3 separate regions of the Homo sapiens genome follow, and regions 1 and 2 are each linked to region 3. The links come from fine-mapping of genetic effects on gene expression. A gene starts in region 3. Each other region holds a variant in brackets. All regions are shown on one strand. Distances are from middle to middle. Region 1 overlaps BLM (BLM RecQ like helicase). Region 2 overlaps BLM (BLM RecQ like helicase). Region 3 holds the start of BLM (BLM RecQ like helicase).

What was found. PIP is the estimated chance that this variant, and not a neighbour inherited with it, causes the effect.
Region 1: its variant is fine-mapped to the expression of BLM in whole blood (TOPMed, PIP above 0.99). The same link has a PIP of 0.9 or more in blood mononuclear cells, lung and monocytes.
Region 2: its variant is fine-mapped to the expression of BLM in monocytes (Fairfax 2014, PIP 0.95).

The regions. Positions count from the first base shown.
Region 1 is chr15:90,806,782-90,811,781 of GRCh38, forward strand. BLM (BLM RecQ like helicase) reads left to right here. Exons shown (of 22, transcript NM_000057.4): 20 at 2,356-2,478; 21 at 4,424-4,625. Among named protein-coding and RNA genes, the nearest start is that of FURIN, 59 kb to the right of the region's middle. The variant G/A (reference allele first, on the strand shown) is at 1,919.
Region 2 is chr15:90,786,205-90,791,204 of GRCh38, forward strand. BLM (BLM RecQ like helicase) reads left to right here. Exons shown (of 22, transcript NM_000057.4): 15 at 4,445-4,640. Among named protein-coding and RNA genes, the nearest start is that of BLM, 71 kb to the left of the region's middle. The variant GT/G (reference allele first, on the strand shown) is at 2,267.
Region 3 is chr15:90,714,602-90,719,956 of GRCh38, forward strand. It overlaps BLM (BLM RecQ like helicase), which reads left to right and starts at 2,745. Exons shown (of 22, transcript NM_000057.4): 1 at 2,745-2,839. CRTC3-AS1 (CRTC3 antisense RNA 1) reads right to left here and starts at 2,539. Exons shown (of 4, transcript NR_120372.1): 1 at 2,380-2,539.

The DNA.
Region 1 (5,000 bases), 92 kb after region 3:
TTCTTCATTCCCTCTCCTACGATAATCGGTCATTACAATATTTCACTGACTCTAAGATGCCAACTATATTAAGATACTGTTACTTTATGGACTATTAAGGAAGAAAAAATTCTGCTAATTAAACTATGACACAGTGCTTTTATTGAAAAAATTGTGTTTTACTGATTTAGACATTGATTTTTATTATCCACAGCTGTGTGCCTGTATGAAAAATACATATAATCAAATTACCGTAGGTACTTATAAAAGTTCACATTCAAAGCCTGACTCTTCTGAGTCACTTTTTGACTGAGTCGTCCATGTCTTTGTTTTTCCCTATGTCATCACTAACATTCTCATTAGCCATAAGGCATTTCCAGAGTGTTCCACTATTTTCCCCAGGATTTAATCGAAATCTCTGTTATCAGTTCTGTTTTGAAGGTGGTGGTTTCTTGATGATACCAGAAGGTGTCAACAGAAGGTTGTACATCTCTCAGTAACAAAAATGTAGTGCGGCCTCATCTACTTTGGGCATCTTCTTTCTTAGGTCACGTAAAGCACTTGGTTGTACTTGCGAGAAACTATGGAATTGGGGGCCTGTGTCCTCAGAGACAAATAGTGCCTGGGTTTTTTTTGTTTTGCTTTGTTTTGTTTTTTTGGAGATAAGATCTTATTCTGTCGCCCAGGCTGGGTGCAGTGGTTGAACACAGCTCACTGCAGCCTAGACCTCCTGGGCTCAAGTGATCCTCCTACCCCAGCTTCCTGAGTAGCTGGAACTACAGGCATGTACCACCATGCTTGGCTAGCTTTTTTATTTTTTTGCAGAGACAGGGCCTCACTGTTACCCAGACTGGTCTCATACTCTTAGGCTGAAGCAATCCGCCCTGTCTCAGCCTCCCAAAGTATTGGGATTACAGGCATGAGCTACCACGCTCAGCCAGATAGTGCTTTTCTTAATACCAAATGTATTCCCTGCTACTCTGTTTCAGAACTTTTCTGCATTCACAATCACTTTTTTAATGCTAATCACAGTATAGTCTTTTTGAAGACATGTCATGGCAGTTAGACTCAATACATGAGGTACAAACAGTGCAGTGACTTTGTTGACATGCTGACAGTACTAATAGCTATGACTAAGTTCTCACAAGCATGAGCAGTAACAACCGCAAGGCAGCTGCCATTTAGCCATCAGCAGTTCTAAGACATATCTTGACCTCAGGAATGCTAAATTGTGAAAAGGTGTGTGTCTTAGAATTGATGAAATTTGGTATTTTATGATATGTTATTTCTAGGCGATTAGTGTAGTTTCTTAACTGTCCTCCTTACCTCCAGCTGTGAATGTGATGTACATTTTAATCTTTCAAAACCTAGTAAAACTACAACAGCTTCCCAGATAAAGTATACATTTTATCAAGGGTCTACATTTCTTCCTGCCTCTCCTACTTTATCTTTCATTAAACCCCCTTCATAAACCTTCTGTTCTGTCCACAGTCTCTTGCTTTTCCTCTAAACATGGGAATGATGTGAAAATCACAGATGGGAAAGGATTTGAAATCCACTCTTTGCTCAGCTCAAATACATAGGAATGGTTACTCCCTCACTACCCAGAGCCAGTGCATCAGTCAGTCCTACAGAGCCAGCCTCCAAAACTCACCCAAGCTTGCTTCACTGTGTCTCCACTACTGCATTCCAGTTCACTCCATCCTCACTCGCTCCTGCAATGGCTTCCACCAGGCTCCCGGATTCTACTCTTTCCTTTACAGTCAAGTTCTTAAACAGCAGCCAGGGTGGCCTTTAAATGACAGGCTTGTCTAGCTGCAAGACTGATATGCGACCTCTATGCAGAGGACTCAGCTGGCTGCTTGTTGCCTCAACCCACATGGGGAAAGAGTGGAGGAAGAAAAGTTTGTGCTGGAGGAAGTAACAATTTGGTTATGCC[G/A]TCTAGGGTGGGGTGTACAAGTCTGGAGTGCAGAGAAGAGGCTGGAGCTGGAAATAGAAATGCAGCGTTCTCAGTAAAGAGAGGGCACACCAGTCTCAGCTAGATGAGTACTGGCCATGGGAACAGTGGGCAAGAGCAGATCTGCTCCACTCCACGCACATGGCACAGGTCCCACCCTCAGCTTCCTCCTGCCCTGGCTCTTGCCCTTGCTCTGCCCTGGCCTATGCCGCTGGAATTGGATGGTGGGTTCCTGCCCTCTGTGCCTGTCTGCTGCCTCTGAGGTGCTAACTTTGCCTTTTACAAAATTGGCCTGTGTTCCCAGTACCCTGCAGTTAGTTGGCACTTAGCAGACGTGTGCTGAATGCGTGAATGAGCCTGAATTCAGTGGGTTTTCTATGGGTGATAATTTAAATTCCTAATTTTATGCCTTTGCACAGAATCTTTATCTTCTGATCCTGAGGTTTTGCTTCAAATTGATGGTGTTACTGAAGACAAACTGGAAAAATATGGTGCGGAAGTGATTTCAGTATTACAGAAATACTCTGAATGGACATCGCCAGGTTAGTACACAGCCATGTGTGTTCTCTAAAAGCCTGTTTAATGTGAAGCGACGCGTCTCACTGAATTAGAAGGATGCAGTTGTGTGAATGCTTCCTACACCTCGTCACACTGACATCCAAGTCAGCCCCCAGTGGTGTGCCAGTCACCTCTGAGAGGACACTAGTGCTTATGCCCCCTGTGAGTGCCAGTTCTGAACTTACTCATAGGATCCAAAAGGGGACCTTTGGGCCCAGGGGTTGCTGGTTCCCGTAATGCAAGTGCTCAAGGGATCAGAGCCCTGGGTACCAGTTCCAGATCTGCCACCACGTCATGCTGTGTGGTCTCTAGCAGGCCACCAATAGCCTCTTTGTGAATCAGGTTCCTCCACCAAGGAAGGAACATGTTATCTGACAAACATGTCTAAAGATAAAATTTAAGACTAGTGTTTAAATGTTTTGGAGAAATGAGCATGCAGCTAGAATGTTATTATTGTTAGTCATTGATAGAACCTGCCTGAGTGCATCATTATCAGACGTTCCCGGAGTCACGTTAGGCCTGTCCTGTGGCACTTCTAATCATGAGCTTCATCATCATTACAGCTTTAGAAATCATTGACCTGGGGGAAATGAGAACAACAAAGCATTTTGTTGTAGGAAATATTGAGAGCACAGAAGTCTTCTGCCCTCTGATAACATCACCACGTAATAGGACACAACAGACAGGCCCGGTTCAGTGTTCTTCCTGCTTCCAGACAGGCAGTGTGGGGGTCTTCCCAAGGATGATGGAAATGATGAGCAGGATGAGATAGTTCAAGTTCTCTCTTTACCTAGTCGCTTTTTTTTTTTTTGACAGAGTCTCACTCCAGGCTGGAGTTCAGTGGCACAATCTTGGCTCACTATGCCTCCCAGATTCAAGCAATTATCCCACCTCAGCCTCCCCAGTAGCTGAGACTACAGGCATGCACCACCACACCTGACTTATTTTTGTATTTTTTTGGTAGAGTTGGGGTTTCACTATGTTGGCCAGGCTGGTCTTGAACTTACGACCTCAAGTGATCCACCTGCCTCAGCCTCCTGAAGTGCTGGGGTTACAGGCATGAGCCACCACACCTGGTCAGGTTCTCCTAAATTCTTCTATATGGTAATTAGTCCATTAAAAGCCTTGTTCCGAATACATTTTGACAGTGAGCCAGGGTTGGAGCAGCCATGGTGGAGTCCTGTGCCCTCCATGCTGCTCCTGTAGGGTGGCCTGTAGGACAAGGCAGACCAGCCAGGAAATGGAGACTGGGTCCCCGTGTGAGCTATCTATAGGGAGGTTTCATGCTTTTTGGGTGCCTTGGGATGCAAATACTTATGGAAATTACCATCTTCTTTGCAAATGTGTGCTTTCATGCGGTCTCACCTCCCGCATAATATGTGACATGTTCAGCCATATTGTGCAAAGACAAGTTTTTTTGTCTGTAAAGAGTAAAATAGGATCTAGAATTTTCTTATGTTCATTTACTAAGAAACTATTGTTCAAAGATGAGATACAGGACCGTTTGTTTCCCTTATATTGAGCTGATTTTTTCAGCACATTTAAAATAAGTAAAATTGCCTGCCATCTTTATAGCAGTTGATACTTTTTGAATTGCCTACCAGAACTAACTGCCCAATCAACAACAGGAACACAGGCCATATGCGACAGTATGAGCTAAACCTCATGTCTCTAGTTAACTTCAAGACTATCACAAATTTTTTTAATGAATTCTGATTCTCTTTTGTTAAAAATGAATTGCCATTGAACACTTTGGGGCTTTGTGCAGTAAAAAAAGGTTTGGTTCTTGCTGAATTGTTGAATCCATATGGCAGGGAAGCAGCTAGGTATCTGCTAAAATGGGCCCCTGCAGCGTGTCTCTTCATATACACTAAAAACACGTGGACCAGTGCGACATCACCTGTAAACATCTGCATTTTCCATTTGTAGCTGAAGACAGTTCCCCAGGGATAAGCCTGTCCAGCAGCAGAGGCCCCGGAAGAAGTGCCGCTGAGGAGCTCGACGAGGAAATACCCGTATCTTCCCACTACTTTGCAAGTAAAACCAGAAATGAAAGGAAGAGGAAAAAGATGCCAGCCTCCCAAAGGTCTAAGAGGAGAAAAACTGCTTCCAGTGGTTCCAAGGCAAAGGGGTATGTTTTGTGACATCTTTTTCAATATAGGGAACAAGGGAAGAAAGGACAAAAGTGCAACAGCTCTGCCTTGCTTTGAAGGATTTATTAAAATAAGCCATTATTAAATATTGCTAATGGAATGACAGTTGTTAATGGAGTGACAATTAAGGTTTGATCCAAAACAAAAATATTTGCTTCAAGAAACAACAAAAAATATTTGCTTCAGATGTTTAAAACATCTACTGACTAATAGTTATGACTAAAGTTTTCTTTCTTTTTTTAATTTGAGGACAAAGTCTGACTCTGTTGCCCAGGCTAGAGTGCAGTGGCACAATCTCGGCTCACTGCAACCTCTGCCTCCTGTACTCAAGTGATCCTCCCACCTCAGCCTCC
Region 2 (5,000 bases), 71 kb after region 3:
CTTGAACTCCTGGGCTCAAGTGATAATCCTGCCTCAACCTACCAAATTCCTGCGATTATAGGTGTGAGCCACCATCCCCGATGTGTTTCTACTTCTTGGCTACTATGAATAATGGCTTTGTGAGCATTCACGTACAAGTTTTTCCACGGACATATGTTTTCAGTTCTCTTGGGTAGACACCTGGGAGTGGACTTGCTGGGTCAAATGGCAACTCTTTGTTTAACTTTTAGAGGAACTGTGAAACTGCTTTTCAAAGTGGCTCTGCAGTTCTGCATTCTCACCAGCAATGTATGAGGTGCCAGTGTCTCCACGTCTTCACCAATATTTTTTATTGTCCAGCTTTTTTAATGTATTCATCCTTGTGTGTGGGAAATGGTATCTCTTTGTGGGTTTTTTTTTATTTACATGGAAGACCACACACGTGAATAATTCAAGCAAGGAATTCACGTCACCCAGGCTGGAGTGCAGTGGCGCAATCTTGGCTCACTGGAACTTCCGCCTCCTGGTTCAAGCAATTCTCCTGCCTCAGCCTCCCAAGTAGCCGGGACTATAGGCACATGCCACCACACCCAGCTTATTTTTGTATTTTTAGTAGAGACAGGGTTTCACCATATTGGCCAGGCTGGTCGTGAACTCCTGACCTCATGATCCGCCCACCTCAGCCCCCCAAAGTGCTGGGATGACAGGTGTGAGCCACCACGCCTGGCCCTCTTTGTGGTTTTGATTTGCATTTCCCTAGTAACTAACAATATTGGGCATCTGTTTCCGAGATGAGAAATTTGCCGTCACCCAGGTGGGTGGGGAGGAAAGCTGAAAATACTTTAGGCATCTCTTTTTTTTTTTTTTTTTTTTTTTTTTTTTTGAGACGGGAGTCTCACTCTGTCGCCCAGGCTGGAGTGCAGTGGCGCGATCTCAGCTCACTGCAAGCTCCGCCTCTCGGGTTCACGCCATTCTCCTGCCTCAGCCTCCCGAGTAGCTGGGACTATAGGCACCCGCCACCACGCCCGGCTAATTTTTTTTTGTATGTTTAGTAGAGACGAGGGTTTCACCACGTTAGCCAGGAGGGTCTCGATCTCCTGACCTCGTGATCCGCCCGCCTCGGCCTCCCAAAATGCTGGGATTACAGGCGTGAGCCACCGCACCCAGCCTACTTTAGGCATCTCTTATTGTGGTAAATGCCAGCCTTGGATAGATCCCTCTAAATGAAAGGATGAATTTCAGCAAAACAACTAATAATTACTTGGAGCCAATGAAAAGTTTCAGCTCAGGAAAAAGTATTTACTTTGAAGATTCAGAGGAAAAATATCTCTCAAAATTGTTTTCTCTGGGAAAACAGAAAATTTTAGAGGATATCAGTTTAGTATCCCGAGAAAGATATAAGAAGACTTAATATACGTGAACTAGTAACAACTTCCATAAGATCACAGGGTGAGATGAAGGGAGAAATAAAAATCCAGTTTATGGCCAGGTGCAGTGGCTCACCCCTGTAATCCCACCACTTTGAGAGGCCGATGTGGACGGATCACCTGAGATCAAGGAGTTTGAGACCAGCCTGGCCAATATGGTGAAACCCTGTCTCTACTAAAAATACAAAAATTAGCCGGACGTGGTGATGGGCATCTGTAGTCCCAGCTACTCAGGAGGCTGAGGCAGGGGAATCACTTGAACCTGGGAGCCGAAGGTTGCAGTGAGCCGAGATCGTGCCACTGTACTCCAGCCTGGGAAACAGAACAAGACTCTATGTCAAAAAAAAAAAAAGAAAGAAAAATTCAGCTTATCCAAGTAAGAAAAACAAAACTAAGAGCAGAATTATATATTAAGACACAAATGGAATGACTCAGTCTCAGTGGAGACAATAGAATCAGTGATGTAGTGAGTAGCTTGAGAATGCAAGGGAAAAAAGAGATTAAAATGGGGTGGGGTGGAAATTATCTTTGTTGACAAAAGGAGGTAAGGATTCAGCCTAAGAATAGTAAGTGTACCCAAGCAAGAAAGCAGGATAATTGAAACAGATAAGTGTGTTATAAATAAATACATAACAAATATATAACAAAAATAATAGAAGACTGTCTTCAGAATTGGAAGAAGGAAGACTGGGACTGAAGAATTTCGTACCCAGCTCACTGTCATTTATGTTGAAACCAACAAAAGGTCATTTTCAGATATGCAAAAAGTTTAGAAATACATCACTCATTTGTCTTCACTGAAATACTGATTTTAGTCTTCCCAAATTAGTTTATATATTTAACCCAAATGCCAGTGTTTT[GT/G]TTTTTTTTTTTTTTTTTTTTTTGGTTTTTTGTTCTTTTCCCTTTGATAAACTTTTTCTAAAGTTTGCCTGGAAGAATATTCAAGTGAAAATAACTAAGAGAGTTTGGCAAAAAACCTAATAATACAGGAACACTAGTTTGCAGTACATTATAGGCAGATCAGTGGAACAGGAAAACATGTAAAAACAATACATGATAAGGAAAAAGTTTGCATGAAAGGGCCAGGCATGGTGGTTCACACCTGTAATCCCAGCACTTTGGGAGGCCAAGGTGGGAAGATCACTTGAGCCTAGGAGTTCAAGACCAGCCCAGGCAACATGGCGAAACCCCATCTCTACAAAAAATACAAAAATTAGCCTGGCATGCTGGTGCACACCTGTAGTCCCAGCTTCTCGGGAGTCTGAGGCAGGAGAATAGCTTGAACCCTGGAGGTGGAGGTTGCAGTGAGCCAAAATCACGCCACTGCATTCCAGCCTGGGCAACAGACCGAGACTGTCTCAAAAAAAAAAAAAAATGATTTTTTTCAAGTGCTTTAAATGGTTATGTATAGTATAAATAATCTACAATGGAGATATATATATATATATATATAACTTTGATAAAAAATATGGTTAAACAATAGGGGTTTATAAAAACCTAATTATTTCTGCTCTCAGACTAATTAATCCTTACAGTCAGCATGTAATATTAGCCTACACCAGCTCGACAGACTTGATCTCGTTAGATTCATGAGATAGAATAAAACTTGGCCATTATTCTTCACAAAGAATGATTGTGGCTTGAAGTTTTAAAAGCGCAGAAATAAAGAAGGAAATCACAATTAAACAAAGCCACTTTTCCCAATTTCAAGAAATAAGAGCTTTCAGAAAGAGTTGGCAGCCTTGCATCCTCATCTGGAGGCTGCAGGCGGTGCCTCACAGCCCTGTGCCCGCCCTGATACTGGGAGATGCACCTGGACTTCATGGAACCCTGTGGGTCATGCTTCCGGACCTGTCGGCTGACACATCTTGCTGTGCAGCTTCTCCACCTGCTCTCCATCACTAGAAGCTACAATAGTCTTTCTGTTTCCAAGGAGATTTGCCTTTGATCAGAGTGCCATAAATGTAGATGGATGACTAACCGAGAGCGCAGGCCACTCACCGCCATTCCTGGTGTTGATAAATGTACCCCTTTACTGTCCACATACTCCAGAGCTTGCAGTTCCTTCCGCTGGTACTCACAGTTACTGAAATCATGTCATTAGTCTCAGTCTGCCTGCCAGATATTTCAGATGCCTTTGAAATACTGTTCTTGCAGTAGCAATTCATTTTTTTAAGTGCTAAAAAAAAACTTGCAGTTTTATTTGTGAAGTGTAATTTTGCCTGGAGATATAACATTTTGGTCTGGGTTAAATAGCTCCTAAATTCTCAACTGAAATGGATATCCTTGAAAACTGATTTATCAAGCTCCTGAGAGTGAACTATCACCTTGCTTCCACTAAGTAATTTGTAAGGTCTAAGATCCGCAGTCCCTGGTGTTTTTTTTTTTTTTTTTTTTTTTTTTTTTTTTTTTTGGTATAAGTAGCTCTCAGACTTTTACCCACATGAGTTTCCATTAAAATTGTACAAGCTTTGACTTTAAATCAGCTGATGAATAGAAGGAGTTGATGTGTGATCAGCTGGTGCTATTGGGAAAACTGATGATAAGCAGTGGAGCAGGTAAGAACGTATTGTTCCTGAACCATTGGAGGAACTAGCAGCAGTGACCTCTGAGGAGCCCTGGGAACACCCTGGAGCTCCTGAGCAACACGTTGCTTGTGATCACTGACCTGGATATCATGACTGTGTGAGCAACACCCCCCACACCTCAGTAGCAAAAACAGAGAACAGTGGCAGCACATCGTGGGCTGACTGCAGTTGATTCTGGCTCTCTTACATGAGAATGCCAAGTCATACAAGAAAGTGCCTGCCATGCTGAGCTTCTCTTTACCTTCTTGGGTTTTAATGGCATTGCAAGTTATCAGTATAAAAACTCATATTAGTTATACTAAATAGTTGGACCAAGTTAAGATATTAGGTTGTTATGTAGTGTGCATTTTAAAGTAAAACAAATGATAGAGCTTTTAGAAGCATCTATTATGAAAATGTTCCTTCAAGTCTGTGCCTTATGAATCTAATAAGCTTTTGCTTTTATATCAGGTTATCTGTGCTACAATTGCATTTGGAATGGGGATTGACAAACCGGACGTGCGATTTGTGATTCATGCATCTCTCCCTAAATCTGTGGAGGGTTACTACCAAGAATCTGGCAGAGCTGGAAGAGATGGGGAAATATCTCACTGCCTGCTTTTCTATACCTATCATGATGTGACCAGACTGAAAAGACTTATAATGAGTAAGCTGGGCTCCATTGTAGAGACATTCTGTCATCTTCAGCCTCATGATAGTAGTCTACTCCTGCTATTGTGGTACTTCTGGTCCAGTTTTCCTTAAATAATCGTAGAAAAATAGAGGAGTTTATACAGATTGGCAATTTTATTTTAGTTCATTTTTATTATAAAAGTGGTAAGTGCTTATTTTGTAAAACTCAAATGATACAGATGTGTACAAGGCAGAAAATTTACAAACCATGCCTTGTAGTTTTGCCCCCAAAATAACTCTAGTTATTGGTTTCCTTTGTATCCTTTCAGACCCTATTTCTGCATGCATTCTTGCATGTAACACATATTTCAAACATGCAGGAAGATAAAAAGGA
Region 3 (5,355 bases):
TGCGCCCGGCCCTATATACTCTTTTATCTACCTCTTTTTGTGCTCAGCATAGTGTCTGAGCTTCATCTATATTGTATGTACCAGTAGTTCATCCTCCTATTACTTTGTAATACAGAAAAAAACTGAGAAAAGCTTTGAAATGGTCTAAAACAGATTACTGGGGCCAGGCATGGTGGCTCAAGCCTGTAATCCCAGTACTTTGGGAGGCCAAGGCAGGCAGATCACCTGAGGTCAGAAGTTCATGACCAGCCTGGACCACATGGTGAAACCCCATCTCTACTAAAAATACAATAAATTAGCCAGGCGTGGTGGCACGTACCTGTAGTCCCAGCTGCTCGGGAAGCTGGGGCAGGAAAATCGCTTGAACCTGGGAAGTGGAGGTTGCAGTGAGCTGAGATCACACCACTGTACTCCAGTCTGGGTGACAGAGCAAGACTCCATCTAAGACAAACAACAAAAAAATGATTACTGGGTGTCATTGAAAAACAAGGTGCCCAGCTGTCCAGCTTACTTTTCTAGGATGTCTGATTCTATGAAGACTCTAAACCTTTCACTGTCTTTGAGCTACAGAACAACTATACAAACTATAGACACTTCTTGTCTATAGAAATGCAAATTGTGGCCGGGCACGGTGGCTCATGCCTGTAATCCTAACACTTTGGGAGGCCAAGACAGGCGGATCACCTGAGGTCAGGAGTTCGAGACCAGCCTGGCCAACACGGTGAAACCCTGTCTCTACTAAAATACAAAAAGCTAGCTGGGCATGATGGCGGGTGCCTGTAATCCCAGCTACTCGGGAGGCTGAGACGGGAGACTCTATTGAACCTGGGAGATGGTGGTTGCGGTGAGCCGAGCTTGCGCCACTGCACTCCAGCCTGGGCGGCTGAGTGAGACTCCGTCTCAAAAAAAAAAAAAAAAAAAGAAATGCAAATTGTTTTCAGTAGAATGCAATTGATTACTAAGCTGTGGATTTCATCAGTTCTGCCAGTTTTTGTATATATTTGTAGTTATTTCATTATTCCTCATTTGACTATGTGTGTGGTACTTTGAATTTTCCATTGAAGCAGTTGTAATCTTTCTGGATATCTCATTCATTAATGAGTTAAATAAAATCTCTAACATTTATTTTATATCTGTATTATATTTGATATTAAAATTATTCTTCAACAGTAGTATACAGTTATATGAATAAGCTGCAATTTATCTATTCATCTATTGGTGGACATCTGGGTTTTTTCCCTTTGGCTATTATGAATAAAGCTGCTATGAGTCTTTTGGTGAATAAAGGCATTCATTTTTTGGGGTAAATATCTAGAAATGGGATTTCTGGGGTATAGGGTAGGGGTAAATTTGATTTCAGTAGAGACTGATGTTTCCAAAGTGGTTGTACCATTTTACACTCCCATCAACACTGTATGAGAGTCCCATTTCTGCATCTTTGCAACTAAGGGAATTGTCAGTCTTTTCATTTCAGCTATTCTATGGAGTGTTTAATAGTATCATATTTTGGTTTCAATTTACCATAGAAGATTTTCAGGAGGGAGGTAACTTGAACAGATTTTTACATTTTAGAAAACTCTTTCTGCGTATTATGTGGAGAATGATTATTTGTATACCAAAGTTCATAGCAGCATTATTCACAATAGCCAAAAGGTGGGAATAACCAAGCATCCATTTATATGGATGAATGGATAAACAAAATGTAGTATACATGTATAATGGAATATTATTTAGCCTCAAGAAGGAAGAAATTCTGATACATGCTACAACATAGATGCTCCTTGAAGACATTATGCTAAGTGAAATAAGCCAATCAGAAAAGAGCAATTATTGTATGATTCAATTTATATGCGGTACCTCGCACTTACAGACAGAAAGTGCAATATCGGCTATAAGGGGTTGTGAGAAACGGGTAACGGGGAGTTACTGTGTAACAGGCAGATTTTCTATTTGGGATAATGAAAAAGTTCTGGAGATGGATAGTGGTGATGGTTTCACAACAATGTGAATGTACTTAATGCCAGTGAACTGTACACTTAAAAATGGTGAATTTTATGTTAGATAGATTTTATCACACACACAAAGAGGAGGGAGGGCGGGAGGGAAGGAGAGAGGGAAGGAAGTAGAGAGGGGAGAAGAGAGGAAGAAAGGAAAGAAAGTAAGATCTGGCATCACAGGGCCCACATTCCCGCGTGTCAGCAATAGGCTGAAACAGAAGCATGGTTTCTCACGTGTCCATGGAGGCATCTGAGTGTGTGCCCACTTTCCCGGTTCAATGACAATTTGCACCTGCTCGTGTAGAGGGGTACGGGTGAAACAGAGACCAGTATTATTAAGGGGATGGAGAGGAGAGACCGCCAAAACATCGCAGAGACACACCGTCGGAACCAAGAGAATGGGGTGCAGACGCCTGGCTTGGCCTGTGGGAACTGGCAAGTCTCAGCTCTCAAACGCCCGGGCTTTTCAACCCGCCACAGCCGGGTTCCAGCTGCCTACTTCCTTTAAAGCCTTCACCGACTCTAAAACACCAAAAACAAAGACCCAACTAGCTCCGGAAGCCCGAGATGTAACCGTAGTCATCTGACCCTCCCGTCCGGACTCTGATTGGGCTTTGGAGATACGCGTCCCTCCCGGCGCTGTACGGCGACCCCGCCCCAGCAGCCTGAGGGGGCGGGAACAGATGTCCGAGTGCGACAGTATTGGTCGGCTTCCCCAGGAAGCAGCCAATCGGAATAGGCAAGCTTCCGGCGGGAAGTGAGCCAGGGCTTGGCGCGGCGGCCGTGGTTGCGGCGCGGGAAGTTTGGATCCTGGTTCCGTCCGCTAGGAGTCTGCGTGCGAGGTGAGTACCGCGCGCGTAACTACGGGTCGGTCCGCATTGATCTAGCCCTGCTCTGGCGGCCCGGCCCGGAGCTGGAGGCCGCTCGGGTTCTTCCGTTTCCTGCACTGGTTCGCCTCGGCCCGCTGAGTCCTCTAGTCTGGCCAACATCCTGGGAGGACAGCAGATACATAAATACGTTCCCAAATGGGGAAACAGAGGCCCGGGGCGGGGGCGAACTCTGCCAAGGTCTCCCGGGGCGTCGGAGGCCGAGCATGGGCTAGGACCTGGCATGTTGTTGCCCATATACTCCAGTGCGTAACATGATGCCCTGCACAGAGTAATCCCAGCCCAGACCTCTGGCACTACTACCTCCGTGTCCCTCCTGAGGAACAACGAAAACACTTTGTACTTTTTCTGTGGCCTTCCATAATCACGAGCTGGGCTACTCTTGTTTTTGAGTGTCTACTGTGTGCCATGTTCCTGGCACCCTTGATCTTACAACTGTAGCTTTACGATATCCCAGCAAAGCGAAGTGCTTAAGAATACTGCATCAGATTGCTTGGGTTCGAATTCTGGCTCCTTCACATTTAGCTCTGTGTCTACTGCACGTTACTGAAACACTAAGTGTCTTGGTTTTCGTCTGTCATATGGGGGAAATGGTCTCTTCTACTTCCTGGCGTTTTTGTTAGGATTAAACGACTTAATATATGCAATAATAAATGCTTCGAAGGCTACCTGTTACATAGTACACAGTAAGGGTTCTGTTATCATTACCCAGAGAAGCGGATGAAATTGTCCCCATTTTAGACATGGAGAATCTGAAGTACAAAGAGGTTGTCTCCGTACAGAAAGAGCATTTGGTGATTAAGTGCTAGAGATACAGGATTTGAACTAAGCGCCTGATTTTAAAGTATGTCCCACAACATTAGGCTTTCTCCTATAGCCCTCACCTGTCCTTAGGTCACACAGAACTTTAGGTACCTCATGGCGTGAGATGGAGCAGGTGACTGACAGCTCCTTGTGCCACCCATGCAGATAAATAACACTGGTGTGTCACTGTCAAGATTAAGGGACAGGAATTCGAGAGACTGCATGAGAGATCAGAAGATGAAGAAGCGGGTAGGCAAAAGTATTCTGTTTGGGGAATAGTAAATAGAATTAATTAAATCAACATTTTGTTAGCTGGGCTGCTTATACTGTCAGACAGTAGCTTATAATCTACTGGGAAGAAATGAAATTTCTGGGTCCTGTGTCACTTTCAATGCCACTCACCATGACAGGTACCTTATAAGTATAGTTTACAGTCCTATCAGTAACCTGGAGAAGTAGTTATTTCCTTCGTTTTACTGAGGAAACCAAGAGTTAAAAAATCAGGAAAAGTGTTAGATGTGCAGTAGAACATCATCATGCTGGGAAGTTCTACACATCCGCTTCAGGACAGGTGGTATTACCTATGAGCAGGAAGGGAAGGGAAAAAGGTAAGGGGAATGAGTGATAGTTTATTGTTTTGATTTTTAAATTTTTATCTGTTTTTTCCTTTTTCATAGTCATTCCTGGAATGAGTGAGTTTGTTTTTGTTTTTGTTTTTGGGGGATGGAGTCTCGCTCTGTCGCCCAGGCTGGAGTGCAGTGGCGCGATCTTGGCTCACTGCAAGCTCCGCCTCCCGGGTTCATGCCATTCTCCTGCCTCAGCCTCCCAAATAGCTGGGACTACAGGCACCCACCACCACGCCCAGCTAATTTTTTGTATTTTTAGTAGAGACGGGGTTTCACTGTGTTAGCCAGGATGGTCTCGATCTCCTGACCTCGTGATCCGCCTGCCTCCGCCTCCCAAGGTGCTGGGATTACAGGCGAGCCACCGCGCCCGGCCATGAGTGAGATTTTAAATATATCTGAAATGAGGCCAGGCACAGTGGCTCACACCCATAATCCCAGCACTTTGGGAGGATGAGGCGGGCGAATCACCTGAGGCCAGGAGTTCGAGACTTGCCTCACCAACATGGCGAAACTCCCTCTCTATAGTAAATACAAAATTATCTGGGCGTGGTGGTGTGCGCCTGTGGTTCTAGCTACTGGGGAGGCTGAGGCACGAGAATCGCTTGAACCCAGGAGGCTGCAGTTAGTCAAGATTGCACCACTGCACTCCAGCCTGGGTGACAGAGTGAGAGTCCGTCAGTCAATCTACCTGAAATGTTTTATGCCTTTAAAAGAGAGAGAATAGGGCCGAGTTTAACTTTTTAAATTTGGTTGGTGGGTACATGGGTGTAATTCTATTTTCTGTATCTTTATGTAAGAAATATTAAAAATTAAAAGATATACATATATATTTTAATTTACATATATATGTGTTTTTTTCTAAGAGAAAAATGGATAGAATAAAGAGGTCCAAGATAATCGTAGAATAATCCTAGGACTTCAGTGCTGAAAGCCCCTAAGGGTCTCCACTACCTGTAGGATAAAATCTAAACTCCTTGGCATGATACCAGAGGCTTTTGAGCATTCTGTATCGCTAACACATACTATTCTACCTCAGCCTTT